Regions from separate parts of the Homo sapiens genome. Here region 1 is linked to region 2. A link means that fine-mapping ties the variant in region 2 to the expression of a gene that starts in the linked region. Tissue or cell type: whole blood. Region 2 holds a variant in brackets; the other region holds the start of a gene. All regions are shown on one strand. Distances are between the middles of the regions.

What was found. PIP is the estimated chance that this variant, and not a neighbour inherited with it, causes the effect.
Region 1: NOSIP starts here. The variant in region 2 is fine-mapped to the expression of NOSIP in whole blood (TOPMed, PIP 0.98).

Annotation. Positions count from the first base shown.
Region 1 is chr19:49,577,187-49,585,343 of GRCh38, reverse strand. It overlaps NOSIP (nitric oxide synthase interacting protein), which reads left to right and starts at 4,788. Exons shown (of 9, transcript NM_001270960.2): 1 at 4,788-4,829. It overlaps PRRG2 (proline rich and Gla domain 2), which reads right to left and starts at 4,028. Exons shown (of 7, transcript NM_000951.3): 1 at 3,863-4,028; 2 at 2,040-2,137; 3 at 1,627-1,802; 4 at 1,392-1,431. The coding sequence starts at 2,124. RefSeq lists an enhancer at 111-736.
Region 2 is chr19:49,554,342-49,562,520 of GRCh38, reverse strand. It overlaps NOSIP (nitric oxide synthase interacting protein), which reads left to right. Exons shown (of 9, transcript NM_001270960.2): 2 at 1,829-1,899; 3 at 2,482-2,587; 4 at 3,543-3,624; 5 at 5,272-5,431; 6 at 5,528-5,646; 7 at 5,785-5,972; 8 at 6,096-6,204; 9 at 6,699-7,053. The coding sequence starts at 1,830. The coding sequence ends at 6,770. Among named protein-coding and RNA genes, the nearest start is that of NOSIP, 22 kb to the left of the region's middle. RefSeq lists enhancers at 1,873-1,922, 5,688-6,469. The variant G/A (reference allele first, on the strand shown) is at 3,298.

The sequences.
Region 1 (8,157 bases), 23 kb before region 2:
CCAGCCCAGACCTAGGCCTGTTGCTAAGGTGCAGCTACCCCTAGCAACCGGGCCACAAGGGGGTGGGGCATCGGAGGCCCGGAGGGTGGTCCTCCAGTGGGCAGAAGGCCTTGGGTCCTGGAGCCTGGCTAGGTGTGGTTGCTAGGGAGAAGGCCTCCTTAGCAACCAGGCAGCTGCTGGGATGGGGCTGTGGGGGAGGGGAAATCAGCCAGGTACTGCTTCAGGCTTCTTCGTCTGGTCTGGCCTGGCCAGGCCCCGTTGCTAAGGAGCAGCCCCCCTTAGCAACAAGGCTGGCAACAAGATGGGAACAAGATGGCAACCCCTCAGAGAAGGGGTTCTTGGGGGCAAAATGGGCAGGTGAGGATGGGCAGGCTTCCTCCCTTGGTCGTGTTGCTAGAGGGCTGTGTCCCCAGCAATCAAGCTGCCGGAGGGGCTGGTCTTTCCACTTACTCTGGACACCAGGGAAGGGTTCAGGTGGGCCTGCCCCTCTGAGCCTAAGGCCTGACGGGCCCCACAGCTCTAACCTTTCCCTCCACTGACACTTTTCCCTTCCTAGGGACACAGGACTTGCGTCCAATAAGATGTGGTGGGGGGCCTGGCACCTATAATCTCAGCAGTCTGGGACACTGAAGCAGAAGGATTGCTTGAGGCCAGGCATTCAAGACCAGCCTGGGCCACATAGTGAGACCCCGTCTGTACAAAAACTACAAAAATTACCATGGTAATGTGTGCCTGGAGTCCCAATTACTCAGGAGGCTGAGGTGGGAAGATCGCTTGAGCCCGGGAGGTTGAGGCTGCAGTGAGCCAAGATTGTACCACAGCACTCCAGCCTGGGTGACACAGCGAGACCCTGTCTCAAAAATAAATAATTAAAGGCCTGGCGCGGTGGCTCACGCCTGTAATCCCAGCACTTTGGGAGGCCGAGGCGGGCAGATCACGATGCCAGGAGATCAACACCATCCTGGCTAACACGGTGAAACCCCGTCTCTACTAAAAATACAAAAAATTAGCCGGGTGTGGTGGTGGGTGCCTGTAGTCCCAGCTACTCGGGAGGCTGAGGCAGGAGAATGGCGTGAACCCGGGAGGCGGAGCTTGCAGTGAGCCGAGATCGCACCATTGCACTCCGGCCTGGGCAACAGAGCGAGACTCTGTCTCAAAAAAAAAAAAAAAGCAAAAATAAATATTTAAAAATAAAATAAGGTGTGGGGGGCTCCTCAGGCAAGCTGGGGTCTTAAGGGAGGGAACTCCTTTAGCAGCCAGCTTCAGAGAGCACAGAATTGGGGGGCAGACGATTCTTGTACCTAATTTGGGGTGGAGGACGTTGGTTTGGCCTCGCTGGGAAGGGACTACCTTAGCTGCACAGAACAAGATGGCTTCAGCCCCTCACTCACCTCCTTTGCCATTGTAGATGTAGCTCTCCCAAAAGCGCTCCTTGAGGGGGAAGGAGTGGAAAAGAAGGGGAAAAAGCAGGAATTCAGCTGGGAGGTTCACACCCCCAAACTAGCCCATCCTGATTTCTGAGACACCAAGGAGGAGGGAGCTGAAGGCCAGAACCTACCCCTGCAACCTCCCCACAGGTATAGAGAAGAGAGAGGGCCCGAAACTCCAGGGTCTCGAGGCCCTCACCGTGAGAGTGTTGTCCTCAAAATACTCCCTGGCCTCTTCCCAGGAACACCTCTCTTCCAGACACTCCCGTTCCAGGTTCCCTGGTGTGAGCAGCTCCAGGTCCCAGTGGTTGGCTCTTGGAATCCGGGTATGGCTACTCAGGAAGCTCTGGGCCTCTGGGGGACCCAGGAAGACTTCTGGACCCAAAGACATGAGGGACAGAAAAATGGAGGGTCCCTAGGGCTGGAGTCATAGGGGGATGGAAAGCAGTGGGGTCCTGGAGGAAGGAGCAGGGGCTGGGAATCCAGATTCCTGGGTCTGAAGGAGGAAGGGGCTGGGTCCTGGACTCCTGGAAGAGGAAGGACTAGAAACATTCCTGAGTCAGGGGGAGGCCAACGCCAAGTGTCTGGATGCCACTTCCCCCAAACACTCACCTTGGTCTGTCTCCTCACTGGGTGAAGTATCCAGGCAGGTGGTTAATGCCATATATAGCAGCAGCAGAGAGGGGTGGCCCCTCATATTTTCCAGACACCTAGAACCAGGTTTGTTACAGCTGACAAGGGCCTTAGTCCCTGGGTAATGAGGCAGTGCCTCTCTGACTGGCCTCTGTGGTCCACGAATGGCAATAATAGCAGCCACTTACACAGCCTGTATTCTGTGCCAGATACTGTTTACCTATATAAACTCATTTTACTTTTTTTTTTTTTTGACATGGAGTCTCGCTCTGTCAGCCAGGCTGGAGTGCAGTGGCACAGTCTCAGCTCACTGCAACCTCTGTGTCCTGGGTTCAAGCGATTCTCGTGCCTCAGCCTACCAAGTAGCTGGGATTACAGGCATGCGCCACCACACCCGCTAATTTTCTTTTTTTTTTGAGACAGAGTCTCGCTCTGTCACCCAGGCTAGAGTGCATTGGTGTGATCTCCGCTCACTGCACACTCCACCCCCCAGGTTCATGCCATTCTCCTGCCTCAGCCTCCCGAGTAGCTGGGACTACAGGTGCCGGCCACCATGCCCGGCTAATTTTTTTGTATTTTTAGTAGAGATGGGGTTTCACTGTGTTAGTCAGGATGGTCTCGATCTCCTGACCTCGTGATCTGCCCGCCTCAGCCTCCCAAAGTGAATTTTCATATTTTTAGTAGAGATGGGGTTTCACCATGTTGGCCAGGCTGGTCTTGAATTCCTGACCTCAAGTGATCTGCCTGCCTCAGCCTCCCAAAGTGCTGGTGCTGGGATTACAGGCGTGAGCCACTGTGCCCGGCCTCAACTCATTTTACTTTTCACAGGAGTCATACAAAAATTAGCCAGGCGTGGTTGTGGGCGCCTGTAATCCCAACTACTTGGGAGGCTGAGCCAGAATAATCACTTGAAAGGGGAGACAGAGGTTGCAGTGAGCCGAGACTGTGCCACTGCACTCCAGCCTGGGTGACAGAGCGAGATTCCATGTCAAAAACAAAACAAAACAAAACTTTTCACAGGAGTTTTTTTTTTTTTTTTTTTTTAGACAGAGTCTCGCTCTGTCACCCAGGCTGGAGTGCAGTGGCGCTATCTCAGCTCACTGTGACCTCTGCCTCCTGGGTTCAAGCGATTCTCCTGACTCAGCCTCCCGGGTAGTTGAGATTACAGGTGCGCACCACCACGCCTGGCTAATTTTTTGTATTTTTAGTAGAGATGGGGTTTCACCATGTTGGCCAGGCTGGTCTCAAACTCCTGACCTCAAGTGATCCACCCGCCTCGGCCTCCCAAAGTGCTGGGATTACAGGTGTGAGCCACTGCGCCCGACCAGGAGTCCTATTATTATCCCCAGTATAGAGAACAGGAAACTGAGGCACAGAGAGGTAATATAGCTTGCCGAAGGTCACACAGTGTGCAAGTGTGAGAGCCAGGATTTCAGTGAAGGCAGTGTCCGCCAGAGAAGAAAGCAAGGAGCAGGCAGCTTATCTTTCTTTCCCCACTGTGTCTACAGCACCTGACACAGATGCTTATAAACATGTCCACTGGTGATCTGGAGTCTTCCCTTCCTGGTAATTTCCACTTGTGCCTCTTTCTGTGCTCATTGTCACATCCACCCACAGACAACAAAGATTACGAGAGAGGCAGAGGCAGGGGATTAGTTATATTATTGGGTCTAGGGACCTAAGTGGGCAGGGGCCCTGGACTCCTGGGCCTAGGAGCCCCAAACTTCTGGGTCTCGGAGGGGCGGGGAGCCAGGATGCCTGGGTCCCCAAGCCAGGCTCTTCCTCCAGGGACATTCACTTACCTGCCCAGAAATGTGAGCACTGCCCCTTCCTCTTTAATCGAGAACTCCTTGGCCAGCTACAGCCAGCTGTGAAAGGGGACAGGGAAGAGGGGAGGGGATAAGGAGGAGGGGCGCCCCACTCCCGGTAACCAGGCCTGATCCCCGTTTCTGGCAGGTGGGCGGAACTTGCCATTACCTGCCCTGGGCGGGACTCAGGTAAGGGACAAAGTATTTAAAGGGACCTTGGGATAAAGGACTTAAAGGCCAGAGCTCCATGAGGAAGCCAAGGTGTCGAATACCATGGGATACCTGGGGGATTAGATTCGACCCTCCTCCTCCCTCCCGACCCCTACCCGCTCTGGCTCTCCCCTGGGAGTTCGTCTGTCCGAGCTAGAAAAATTAATATCTAGGTCTCTAGGTATCTAGAAACTAGCGGGAACGATATGCCTTAGTCCCTGGGACAGCTGGGCAGTGCCGCAGTAAATCCCTGTTTCCTGAGAGCGACTTGAACGGCTTTGATTTTCAATTTCCCAATGGCTCTGTCTGTAAAATGGGAGCGTAGTTGTCTCTTCTCAATTGTTTTAAGATGCAGCAAGAAAAGTGGATGATATATTTGGGAAAGTGGGCTTCCCGATCTCTAGGGGAAGTGATTAGTCCTTAAATTTGGGCTTGGAGAGACTCAAAACCTGGGAACCAAGCAGGAAAAAACGATCTCCCTGGGAAATGCCTCGTACATAGTAAGCGTTCCCCATATTCCCACCAGTTTCAATATCCGGAACTTTCGATTAGCTACTCACGTTTCCGGAGAGAGAAAGAGAAGAGAGGACTTGAGCAAGCCAGGCGAGGCACTTCCGCAACTAGGGGCAGCTCTACTTCCGGTGCCTTCTGCTGGGCGGAAGTGGGCGGAGCGGAGGGGGAAAATAGTGCTCCTTTCCGGTGTCGGGGCACAGTTGAAGAAGCGACCGAGGGACTGGGAGTCGTTAGTGAGGTGAGTTCGAGGCGGTGCAGGAAGAGTGTTGCTGGGATCGCTTTCCTGCGGGCTAGAGGCCTGGGGTCTTGAGGGAGACTGGGGCAAGATTTTGGATTCCCGATTCCCTGTCAATCATTATTAATACAGCTGTCCGGGCGCCCCAAGTTTGAAGCTGAACTACACTCTGCTGGAGGTGGCCAACCGTCCATCGGGCAGTTCTCTCTCTCTTTGTCTCTCTCTCTCACTATAAACTCAGTCAAGTGGTAGCTAGCATCGGCCAGTTCTCCTGAGAGTTACAGTTCTGCTGTAGATGATGGCTATTTGCTGGTGGTCCCAAGGGAAGGAGTGGACTGGGATTGCTGGGGGTCTAAGGAGTGGGAGTTGAGGAGGGAGAACTCCTTTCCTGGCCTCAGTTTCTCAGACTGTGGTGGGACGGCGGGCGATACTAGATTGTGCAGTCATCCATCGCCACCTTCTCTTCACCTTTTTGACAGCCCCTTCCCTTTCGGGGTTGGTGCAGGGATTCACGTTTTCTTGTGTGGAGCTTCGGGGTCAGGCAGTCATGGATTCCCATTCTGATTGTGCTGCTAATTCTGTGAACTTGGGGCTTGAACGGTCCTTGAGGCAGTTTGATGTTAATGTTTTCTTACGAAAATGTTCAAACTTATATAAAAGTGAGAGAAGAATACAGGAATTCCTGTCACCCAAATCACCAATGATTATTTTTGCCATACTTGCTGTATTTTTTTAAACTTAAAGAGATTAAAACAAATCGTAGGCATCATGACACTTAAGGATTGTCAAAAGACAAAATTGCAACACATTTAGTGAGAAGATCTTAATTGGCATTTATTCGTGAATCTACAATCAAACAACATCTAATTATGGAAAATAGCGTGAGTGTTCCGATGAGCTGAGCAGAGGTTGTTTTCAGAGACAAAGGGCTGAGAAAATCAGAAACGGAAAACAAAAAGCTAGTTGATTAAATTGATTAACTTGATTAAATTTCTAAGTTAAAGGTTAAAGTAGAGGGGACTTCCTTTATCAGGTGGGCTAAAACTGGGTTGTTTGGGGATTTGGCTATTATCTCTCTCCTGATATCTCAGAAGATCAGATATCAACTTAGTTTTGGCTTGGAAGCATGGAACTTTAGCATGAGTGTCTCCATTTTGGTTTGGTCTGTTGAACCTAGTGCAGGAGCTCAATCCAAACCAATGACCTTCTATAAATTTTATCTAACAGGGTGCGTGTGTAAAAACCAGAAACATTGCTGATATGACCACAATACCATCATCACACTTTAAAAGAACAACCGTAATTCTAGACTACTATCCATTACGTGGTGCAGAGTCAAGTCCAGTGTAACTGTGGGTTTGTTGGAATCAGGATATAGTTAAGTAATTGCTATCGTCTTTTACATCTCTCTTAATTTAGAACTGTTCCCCCTTCCACTCCACTTTGGTTATTTCTTGGTGTAATCGATTCATTGAAGAAACTAATTCTAGTTCAGTTGATCATCCCACCATCTGAATTTGTCCCGTTTGCTTTTTTGTGGTCTCATTTTACCTGCTTCTGTTTTCTTTCTTTTTTTTTTTAAGTATTTAAAAATAGGCCAGACACAGTGGCTCATGCCTGTAATCCCAGCACTTTGGGAGGCCAAGGCGGGCGGATCATGAGATCAGGAGATCAAGACCATCCTGGCTAACACGGTGAAACCCCTTAGCCGGGCATGATGGCAGGCACCTGTAGTCCCAGCTACTCAGGAGGCTGAGGCAGGAGAATTGCGTGAACCCGGGAGGCAGAGCTTGCAGTGAGCCGAGATCACGCCACTGCACTCTAGCCTGGGCGACAGAGTGAGACTCTGTCTCAAAAAAAAAAAAGAAAAAATAGATAGAGACAAGGTGTCACTATGTTGCCCAGGCTGGTCTCAAACTCCTGGGCTTAAGCGATCCTCCTGCCTTGGCCTCCCAAAGTGCTGTGCTTAGATTACAGGTGTGAGCCATTGAGCCCGGCCTCATTTTACTTGTTTCCTCATGCCAGGGATCAGCTAATTATGTTCTACAGACCAAACTCAAATCCTGCCAGCTACCTGTTTTAAAAATCCCCATTGGGCAGGCACAGTGGCTCATGCCTGTAATCCTTGCACTTTGGGAGGTGAAGGCAGGTGGATCATCTGAGGTCAGGAGTTCGAAACCAGCCTGGCCAACATGGTAAAACCTCATCTCTACTAAAAATACAAAAATTGGCTGGTCATGGTGGCTGGCACCTATAATCCCAGCTACTCAGGAGGCTGAGGCAGGAGAATTGCTTGAACCCTAGGGACAGAGGTTGCAGTGAGCTGAGATCATGCCACTTCACTCCAGCCTGGGCAAAAGAGCATAACTCCCTCTCAAAAAAAAAAAGCATTAGTGGGATATGATTTACCTAACATATAGTTCACCCATTGAAAATATACAATTCAGTGGTGTTTAGTACGTTGACAGAGTTGTGCAACCATCAACACTATCATTTTAAGAATATTTTCATCACCCAAAAAGAAACCCTGGTACTCATTAGCAGTCATTCCCTATTTCCTCCCAATCCTTCCCACCCCAGTCTTTGGCAGCCACTACTCTGCTATATCTGTGGATTTGCCTAATCTGGGTATTTTGCACAAATGAAACCATAAAATATTATTGTGACTGCCTTCCTTCTTTCATTTAGCATGTTTTCAAGGTTCACCTATGTTGTGGCATGTATCAATACTTCTTTTTTTTTTTTTTTTTCCCGAGACACGGCCTTGCTCTGTTACCCAGGCTGGAGTGCAGTGGTTCGATCATGGCTCACTGCAGCCTCAACCTCCTGGGTTCAAGTGATCCTCCTGCCTTGGCCTCCCAAAGTACTGGGATTACAGGTGTGAGCCATCGGCGCCCAGCCAGCTACTTTATTCTTTTTATGGCTGGATAATATTCCTTTACCCAAGATATACTTCTTTTCTTTTTTTTTCTTTTTTTGAGACAGAGTCTTGCTCTGTCACCCAGGCTGGAGTGCAGTGGCGTGATCTCGGCTCCCAGGTTTGAGCGACTCTCCTGCCTCAGCCTCCCGACTAGCTGGGGCTACAGGCATGCGCTACCACGCCTAGCTAATTTTTGTATTTTTAGTAGAGATGGGGTTTCGCCATGTTGGCCAGGATGGTCTCGATTTCTTGACCTCATGATCCGCCCGCTTTGGCCTCCCAAAGTGCTGGGATTACAGGCATGAGCCACCGCGCCCCGCCTGCATGGATGTATGTTTTTATTTCTATTGGCAGTGGAATTGCTGGGTCAAAAGGTGACTATTTAACCTTTTGAGAAACTGTGACTTTTCC
Region 2 (8,179 bases):
ACAGTCCTCTTGCTTCAGCCTCCCAAAGTTTTGGGATTACAGGCGTGAGCCCTGAGCCTGGCTCTAAATCATTTTAAGGGATAAAAAAGCCTGCAGGGGCCAGGCACAGTGACTCACGCCTGTAATCCCAGCACTTTGGGAGGCTGAGGCAGGTGGATCACCTGAGGTCAGGAGCTCAAGACCAGCCTGGCCAACACGGTGAAACCCCGTCTCTACTAAAAATACAAAAAAATTAGCCAGGCGTGGTGGCAGGCACCTGTAATCCCTGCTATTTGGGAAGCTGAGGCAGGAGAATCGCTTTAACTTGGGAGGCAGAGGTTTCAGTGAGCCAAGATCATGCTATTGCATTCCAGTCTGGGCAACAAGAGTGAAACTCCGTCTCAAAAAACAAACAAACAAACAGGCATGCAGGCTGTTTACTGGCCAAGCAGTCTTGGTGAAAGCTGCCCAGCCTCTGTGGGTTCAGGGCTTCTCCTTTTACAAATGAACTCCAGAAAAGTAGGGGGCTCCCTTCCTCACACCATACACAAAAATTAACTCAAAAAGTAAAAGTTAAAATGATCAAACCCCTAGAAGAAAACATAGGAATAAATGTGCATTATCTTGGCTTAGGCAATGTCTTTTTTTTTTTTTTTTTAATTGTGACAGAGCCTTGCTCTGTCTAGGTTGGAGTGCAGTGGCATGATGTCGGCTCACTGCAACCCCTGCCTCCTGGGCTCAAGTGATTCTCAGTGCCTCAGCCTCCCGAGTAGTTGGGATTACTGGCGTGTGCCACCACGCCCAGCTAATTTTTGTATTTTTAGTAGAGACGGGGTTTCACCATGTTGGCCAGGCTGATCTTGAACTCCTGAACTCAAGTGATCCACCTGACTCAGCCTCCCAAAGTGCTGAGATTACAGGCGTGAGCCACTACACCTGGTCTGAAACCACTTTAAAAGGGTTAATTTTATGGTATGTGAATTGTGTCTCAATAAAGTCATTTAAAAGGGTGGGGGTTGCCCTTAAGTATGGGGAATGATCAAAGGTATCAAAGTAAGGTGGCAAAATGTTGACAGCTGCTGGACCGCAGGACATGGGTACATCATGGGGGTTCCTTATACTATTCTGGTTTTGTATGTGTTTGAAAACTTACAGAATAAAAAAAGCTTTGCTTTTTGAATTGAGCTCCAGGGTTCTGGGGTCTTCTCTTCCTCCTTTACCTGCAGTGGGAGTGGAGGTAGCTCTTCCCCTAGACACAGAGCCCTACTCTGACCTGCCCTCTGATCGGTCGATCTGAGACATAATCACAGCTGCTAGATCCAGTCGCTAGTGGACTGGCAGGCAGCGATTGGGTCAAGCCTTAGCTAAGTGTCAAGCCTTAGCTAAGTGCCCAGCCTTGAGCCAATCACTGGGCTGGTCCACGCCTTGGCCTCAGTCAGAGCTTACAGATATGAGAGGGGAAGGGAAGGTGGAGTGGATTCATCAACAATAGTGGCCCCCTTGGTGTCTTTTTTTTTCCCCTCCATTAAATGGCACAGCCACCACCCTAGCTAATCTGAAGTAGTGGCTAGAATTTGAACTCTGGTCTCTCACCCTCTTACCTCCAAACAAAGAGTTTTGTTGTTAAAGGTGCTATTTTCACATATAAATGAGTCTAGGTGAGTCTGGAAGGAGGACTTCCTGGAGGAGGCCTGGCGACCACATGCCCTCCCTCTCTTCCACCTCACCCCCCTTCTCCGCCTCCGCTTTCCCATCAAGGGGGGCAGATCAGCTCTGAGGGCTGCAGAGGTCTTCCCTGTGCTGCCTGCCTCCGGTAACCACAGTCCTGCCACTGTCCCTTCCTCCCTAGGATGACGCGGCATGGCAAGAACTGCACCGCAGGGGCCGTCTACACCTACCACGAGAAGAAGAAGGACACAGGTGCAGGGCTGGGGTGGGAAGAGGCGGGACATGGCTGTGTCTTGGAGTCACCCTCTCCCCTCGTGCCCCAGGTTTTGCTTCCTCTGTCCCTGTCTCTCTCCCGCCCCCGATATACACTGATGGCCATGACCATGTAAACAACAGCTGGGTGATCCCATGACCCCATGTGGCCCGGCACTGTGTTCTCTGCCTTCTGCGCATGAACTCACTCCTCCCAACAGAGTGTCAGGGAGGGTGCTCTTGTTACCCCATGTTCCAGAGGAAGAAACTGAGGCCCAAAGAGGGACAGGCACTTGAGCTTGGTCACAGTCAGAAGGGTGGAGGGGAGTCAGCCGTCAGCCCCTCCACCAAGCTGCCACTCAGTGACCAGGCCTGTCTGCCTCTCACCCTCCAGGGTTGACAACTCCCTGTGGGTTCAGCCCGTGGCCCCAGCACACAGGCAGCGGCTCCCAACTGCCTGTTTCTCTCTGAGTCCCCCACCCCCACCACCGCGTTGTCTCTGTGCCTCTCTCTGGGGCTTTGGAGACGGACATGTCTCCTGTTGCTCCGCCCCTCCATCACTCTGCCCATCTCTGTCCCCAGCGGCCTCGGGCTATGGGACCCAGAACATTCGACTGAGCCGGGATGCCGTGAAGGACTTCGACTGCTGTTGTCTCTCCCTGCAGCCTTGCCACGATCCTGTTGTCACGTGAGCTGGGAACAGGGATGGGTAGGTCTGGGTGGGGAGAGCAAGGGAACCGCCAGGAGGAGGCTGTGTGCGTGGGTCTGGCCACCTGCACAGCCAGGGAACCCTGGATGAGCAGTTTATCCTCAGAGCCTCTGTATTCTCACATGGGACATGGGCATGATCCTAGCATCTGTTTCATAGTGTGGAACATATGGAAAGGAACATACTTCTAATGGGGTGTAGGGCTCTCAGAGCATTGCCGAGGCCATCGGAGCAGCTCACCTTTGGACACTTCCCATGACCTACCTCTGATGGTAGGGCAAAGGCTTAACAGGTGCTGAGTCCAGGCACTAAATACGTGCTCAATTAGTGGTATATTTTGTAGAAGACAGTAATTAATGATCAGGGCCCCCAAGGCCACCTTCAGGTTTCTTTTTTTTTTTTGAGACAGAGTCTTCACTTTGTTGCCCAGGCTGGAGTGCAATGGGGACATCTTGGCTCACTGATATCCCAGGCTCAGGTGATCCTCCTGCCTCAGCCCCCACGAGTAGCTGGAACCACGGGTGTGCACTACCACACCTGGCGTTTTTGTTTGTTTTTTGTAGAGAGGGGAGCTCACTTTGTTGCCCAGGCTGGTCTCGAACTCGTGGCTGCAACAATATGTGGCACACATTGTTGCTGAGAGAATGAAGCACTTTCCCTGCAGCTCTATTGGGAGAGGACAGCTGGAA[G/A]CTCAAATCTAGTCTCTACTAGATTCTGCCCCATGTGCCTTTTTCCTTTGCTGATTTTAATCTGCATCCTTTCACTGCAGTAAACTATCACCATGAGTATAACAGCTTTGCTGAGTTCTGTGAATTCTAGCAAATAATTGAACTTGGGACTGATCATGATGACTTCTGCCTATAATCCCAGCACTTCGGGAGGCCGAGGCGGGAGGATCACTTTCTTTCTTTCTCATTGCACCCTGTCTTTGCAGCCCAGATGGCTACCTGTATGAGCGTGAGGCCATCCTGGAGTACATTCTGCACCAGAAGAAGGAGATTGCCCGGCAGATGAAGGTGATGGGGATGGGGAGGAGGCGGCACACGGAGGCAGGAGCTTTTGAGTCTGAGCTCACAGGCAGAGCCACTCAGAGCCCTCTGATCTCAGTTCCCTCTGCCTGGTACACCATTCCCCTCCCCTGCTTCCGGCCAAATCCTTCTCACCGATTTCAGCCCAGATGCTGCCTCCTCTGAGCTCCTGCCAGTCCCCAGGATCTGCCCCAGTCACCTCTTCTCTTAGCACTTAGCATAGTTGTAGCTGTACATGTGGCTGTCTGACACATGCCCACTTTCCCTTATGGACTTCGAGTTTTCCCACCCTGTAGCTTAGGTCCTTAGTAAAGATATGCTAAATGGGTCGGGGGTGGTGGCTCACACCTGTAATCCCAGGACTTTGGGAGGCCGAGGCAGGCGGATCACTTGAGGTCAACAGTTAGAGGCCAGCCTGGCCAACATGGTGAAACCCTGTCTGTACTAAAAATAAAAAAATAAAAAAAAAAATTGAGCCGGGCATGGCGGGCGCCTGTAATCCCAGCTACTCAGGAAGCTGAGGCAGGAGAATCGCTTGAACCCATGAGGTAGAGGTCGCAGTGAGCTGAGATGGCACCGCTGCACTTCAGCCTGGGTAACCGAGCGAGATTCTGTTTCAAAAAAAAAAAAAAAAAAAAAGATGTGCTACGTGAATTGACATCACCTCATTTTTTCTGGGCCTCAGTTTCATCGTCTGTAAAACGGGCTGACGGCCAAATCAGAGGACACAGCAGGGCACCTGGGAGGTACACGCAGATGAGCATTCTCAAGGCGTGTTACTGGGAACCCGGCCTGGCCTTCCATGGACAAAGCCATTTGATGGGTAGGAGGGGCCCTGTTTGAGGCACAGTGGGTCTGTCCCCCTCTTCCCCTGCCTGGTTGCTGGCGCTCAGGAAACACTACAGGTCACATGCTTATTGGGCTTTTTGTCCCAAGCAGGTGGCTCCCCCTGTGCCCATGTCCTCCACACAGCCTGGTGGTCATGTCGGAGGCCCTCATGAGCATCCATCACTGTCACTGTTACCTCCTCACTCAGCTGGGTGGCCCAGGGTGGTCTGGAACTGCAGCACCGCCCAGGCAACTGCTGTGCGCCAGGCAGGGCTGAGCTCAGGTCATGGCTTCACTTCTCCCGTCCTCACTCACTGTCCGTCCATAGACATGGGCTCCTCAGCATTCCCTTAGATCTGAAGTCTACATCCCCCGTCCCAAACACGGGCTGGGGCATGCACTGTATAGAAAACTTAATTGGCCAGCAGGTGACATTAATTAAATGCTTAGCTGAGTGCCAGGTGAGGCTCTCCATGCTGTAAACACTCACCTTATGTAACCCTTCAGTGAGCCGCTGAGGTGGGTAACCACTGTTAGGCTGTTTTACAGATGAAGAAACTGAGGCCAGGAGAGGTCATAGTGCTCACTTAGGCCACAGAGTGACAGAGATGGGCTTTGAGCCCTGGCAGTCTGGCTATACAACGCAGTAAGGTTCACACCCACCCAGGGTGGCAGTTACCACCCTCTGCCACATAGTGCCTCCATCAGAGGGTCCCCTTTGTGGGCCTCAGTTTACCTACCTGTGAAATGGGAGGAAGATACCCCCAGCCCCACGGGCAGATGCTCAGCCCACTTTCCCCGACGCAGGCCTACGAGAAGCAGCGGGGCACCCGGCGCGAGGAGCAGAAGGAGCTTCAGCGGGCGGCCTCGCAGGACCATGTGCGGGGCTTCCTGGAGAAGGAGTCGGCTATCGTGAGCCGGCCCCTCAACCCTTTCACAGCCAAGGCCCTCTCGGGCACCAGCCCAGGTGACTCAGGTTGGGCTTCTTGTGGGTTGGGGGGCGGGGCGCCGCGGGCTGGGCGGGCCCAGGGGGCGGCATCTGAGTCCCTTCCTTCCCCCACAGATGATGTCCAACCTGGGCCCAGTGTGGGTCCTCCAAGTAAGGACAAGGACAAAGTGCTGCCCAGCTTCTGGATCCCGTCGCTGACGCCCGAAGCCAAGGCCACCAAGCTGGAGAAGCCGGTGAGCCCCCACAGCGCCCCGGCACGCACGGTGCCAGGGCGCCAGGGTTCCCCACCGTCCTCCTCACGCACAGGGACCACGCGCTCTCCACCTGCGCCAGCCCTGCCTACTGAGCCCGCCTCTCTCTGCCCCTTGCAGTCCCGCACGGTGACCTGCCCCATGTCAGGGAAGCCCCTGCGCATGTCGGACCTGACGCCCGTGCACTTCACACCGCTAGACAGCTCCGTGGACCGCGTGGGGCTCATCACCCGCAGCGAGCGCTACGTGTGTGCCGTGACCCGCGACAGCCTGAGCAACGCCACCCCCTGCGCTGTGCTGCGGCCCTCGTGAGTCACCTGGGAGGGGAGGGAAGGGACCACTCGGGAACCTGCGGGGCGGTCCGGCTTTGGGGCCAGTAGGTCCCCAGGAAGGCCCCTGATCAGAGTCTCCCGCCTTCGGCCTCACCGTAGTGGGGCTGTGGTCACCCTCGAATGCGTGGAGAAGCTGATTCGGAAGGACATGGTGGACCCTGTGACTGGAGACAAACTCACAGACCGCGACATCATCGTGCTGCAGCGGGTAAGAGTCCCACCCCTCCCCTTCCCCCAGCACTCCAAGGCCCCGCCCCTCCCCTTCACCCCCTCCAAGGCTTCGTCCCCTCCCCTTCCCCCAACTCTCCAAGGCCCCGCCTTCTTCTCTGCTCTGTAAGGCCGCCCCCCCCCCCCGCTTTCTCCTGCAAGGCCCCGCCCTTCCCCCCCTCCGCTCTCCTAGGCCCCGCCTCCTCCTTCCTTTTCAAGGCCCCGCCCCTTCCCTGCCTCCAGCCCTCCACGGCTCCACCCCCTCCACACGCTCCCTCCCAAGGCTCCTCCCCTGCCACTCTCTACCCTCTTCTCTGCGCCCTGCGCCCTGTCCATCCGTACCCACTGCGGTCGCCTCGCCCCCTCCCCAACTCCTACTCCTTAGCCAGCAACCCGCTTCACCTTGACCCGCTTAGGAATCCCCACTACCACCTGGAGCCCCACTGGTCACCCCCGGGCCGGCCTCTACCTCGTCCTTCTCTCTACCTCCCCCAGGGCGGTACCGGCTTCGCGGGCTCCGGAGTGAAGCTGCAAGCGGAGAAATCACGGCCGGTGATGCAGGCCTGAGTGTGTGCGGGAGACCAAATAAACCGGCTTGGGTGCGCAACGACGTGGCGCCTTCATTCGCGGCGTGGGCGCCCCGGGGACAGGGCAGGCGAGGATGCAGGGCCGTGCAAACAGTGCTCCTACAGCGCACGCTGGAGTTTGAAAGAGCGGGCTAAGCATATTGAATGTGGTCTCACATTAAGAACAAAATCTGGCCAGGCACGGTGGCTCACGCCTGTAATCCCAGCACTTTCGGAGGCCGAGGCTAGCGTATCACTTGAGGTCAGGAGTTCGAGACCAGCCTGGCCAACATGGTGAAACCTTGTCTCTACTAAAAATACAAAAATTAGCCGGGCATGGTGGTGCGCACTTGTATTCCCAGCTACTCCAGAGGCTGAGGCAGGAGAATCGCTTGAACCCAGGAGGCGGAGGTTGCAGTGAGCCAAGATCGCACCATTGCACTTCAGCCTGGGCAACAGAGCGAGACTCCATCTCAAAGAAGAAAAAAAAAAAAAAACCTGAATAGAACGCAAATGCACAGCATTAAAATTGGTTGAGTGGCCGGAAGTCCAAGTCTAAGCCAAGACCGTGTGAGTGCGCCACTTTAATGAGCTACATAGAAATTTCTCGAGTTCTTTGTTAGGGTTCCCGGATTTTTGCCAGGTTTGAAGAACAGGAAATGCCCAGGAACGTGTCTTCCGGGCTGCAGTGTGATTAGACCCACAAAGGAAGTGCAGTTCTGTGAAAAAGTGCGCAGCACCCGGACTAGGAAAGGCGGTCAGGAGCATCACGCCCCCACCTGTGGCAGCCTGAGGGGGAAAGGAAGAGGAAACCGCGAGTGCAAAGGCCCAGAGGCAGCAACGCACTTTGCAGATTTAAGGAGCAGAGGGCGTACAGGGGAGAGTGAGGGAGCCAGGGCAGAGCGGGGACCAGGAACCAGCCCGGTGGCGTCAGACTTGACTGGGAATGTAGGGGCTGTCCTTAAGGCCTTGTGTTTAATAACCATTGAGTCACAAAAGCAGCTGCTGGGCAGTGTGAAAAACAGCACGGAGACAAGCAAAGATTAAAACAAGACAGGCCGGGTGCGGTGGCTCACGCCTGTAATCCCAGCACTTTGGGAATCTGAGGCGGGTGGATCACTTGAGGTCAGGAGTTCAAGACCAGCCTAGATAGCCGGGTGCGGTGGCTCACGCCTGTAATCCCAGCACTTTGGGAGGCCGAGGCGGGTGGATCACGAGGTCAGGAGTTCAAGACCAGCCTGGCCAACATGGTGAAACCCCCATCTCTACTAAAAATACAAAAATGAGCCGGGTGTGGTGGCCGGCGCCTGTAATCCTAGCTACTCGGGAGGCTGAGGCGGGAGAATTGCTTGAACCCGGGAGGCGGAGGTTGCAGTGAGCTGAGATCGTGCCACTGCACTCCAGCCTGGG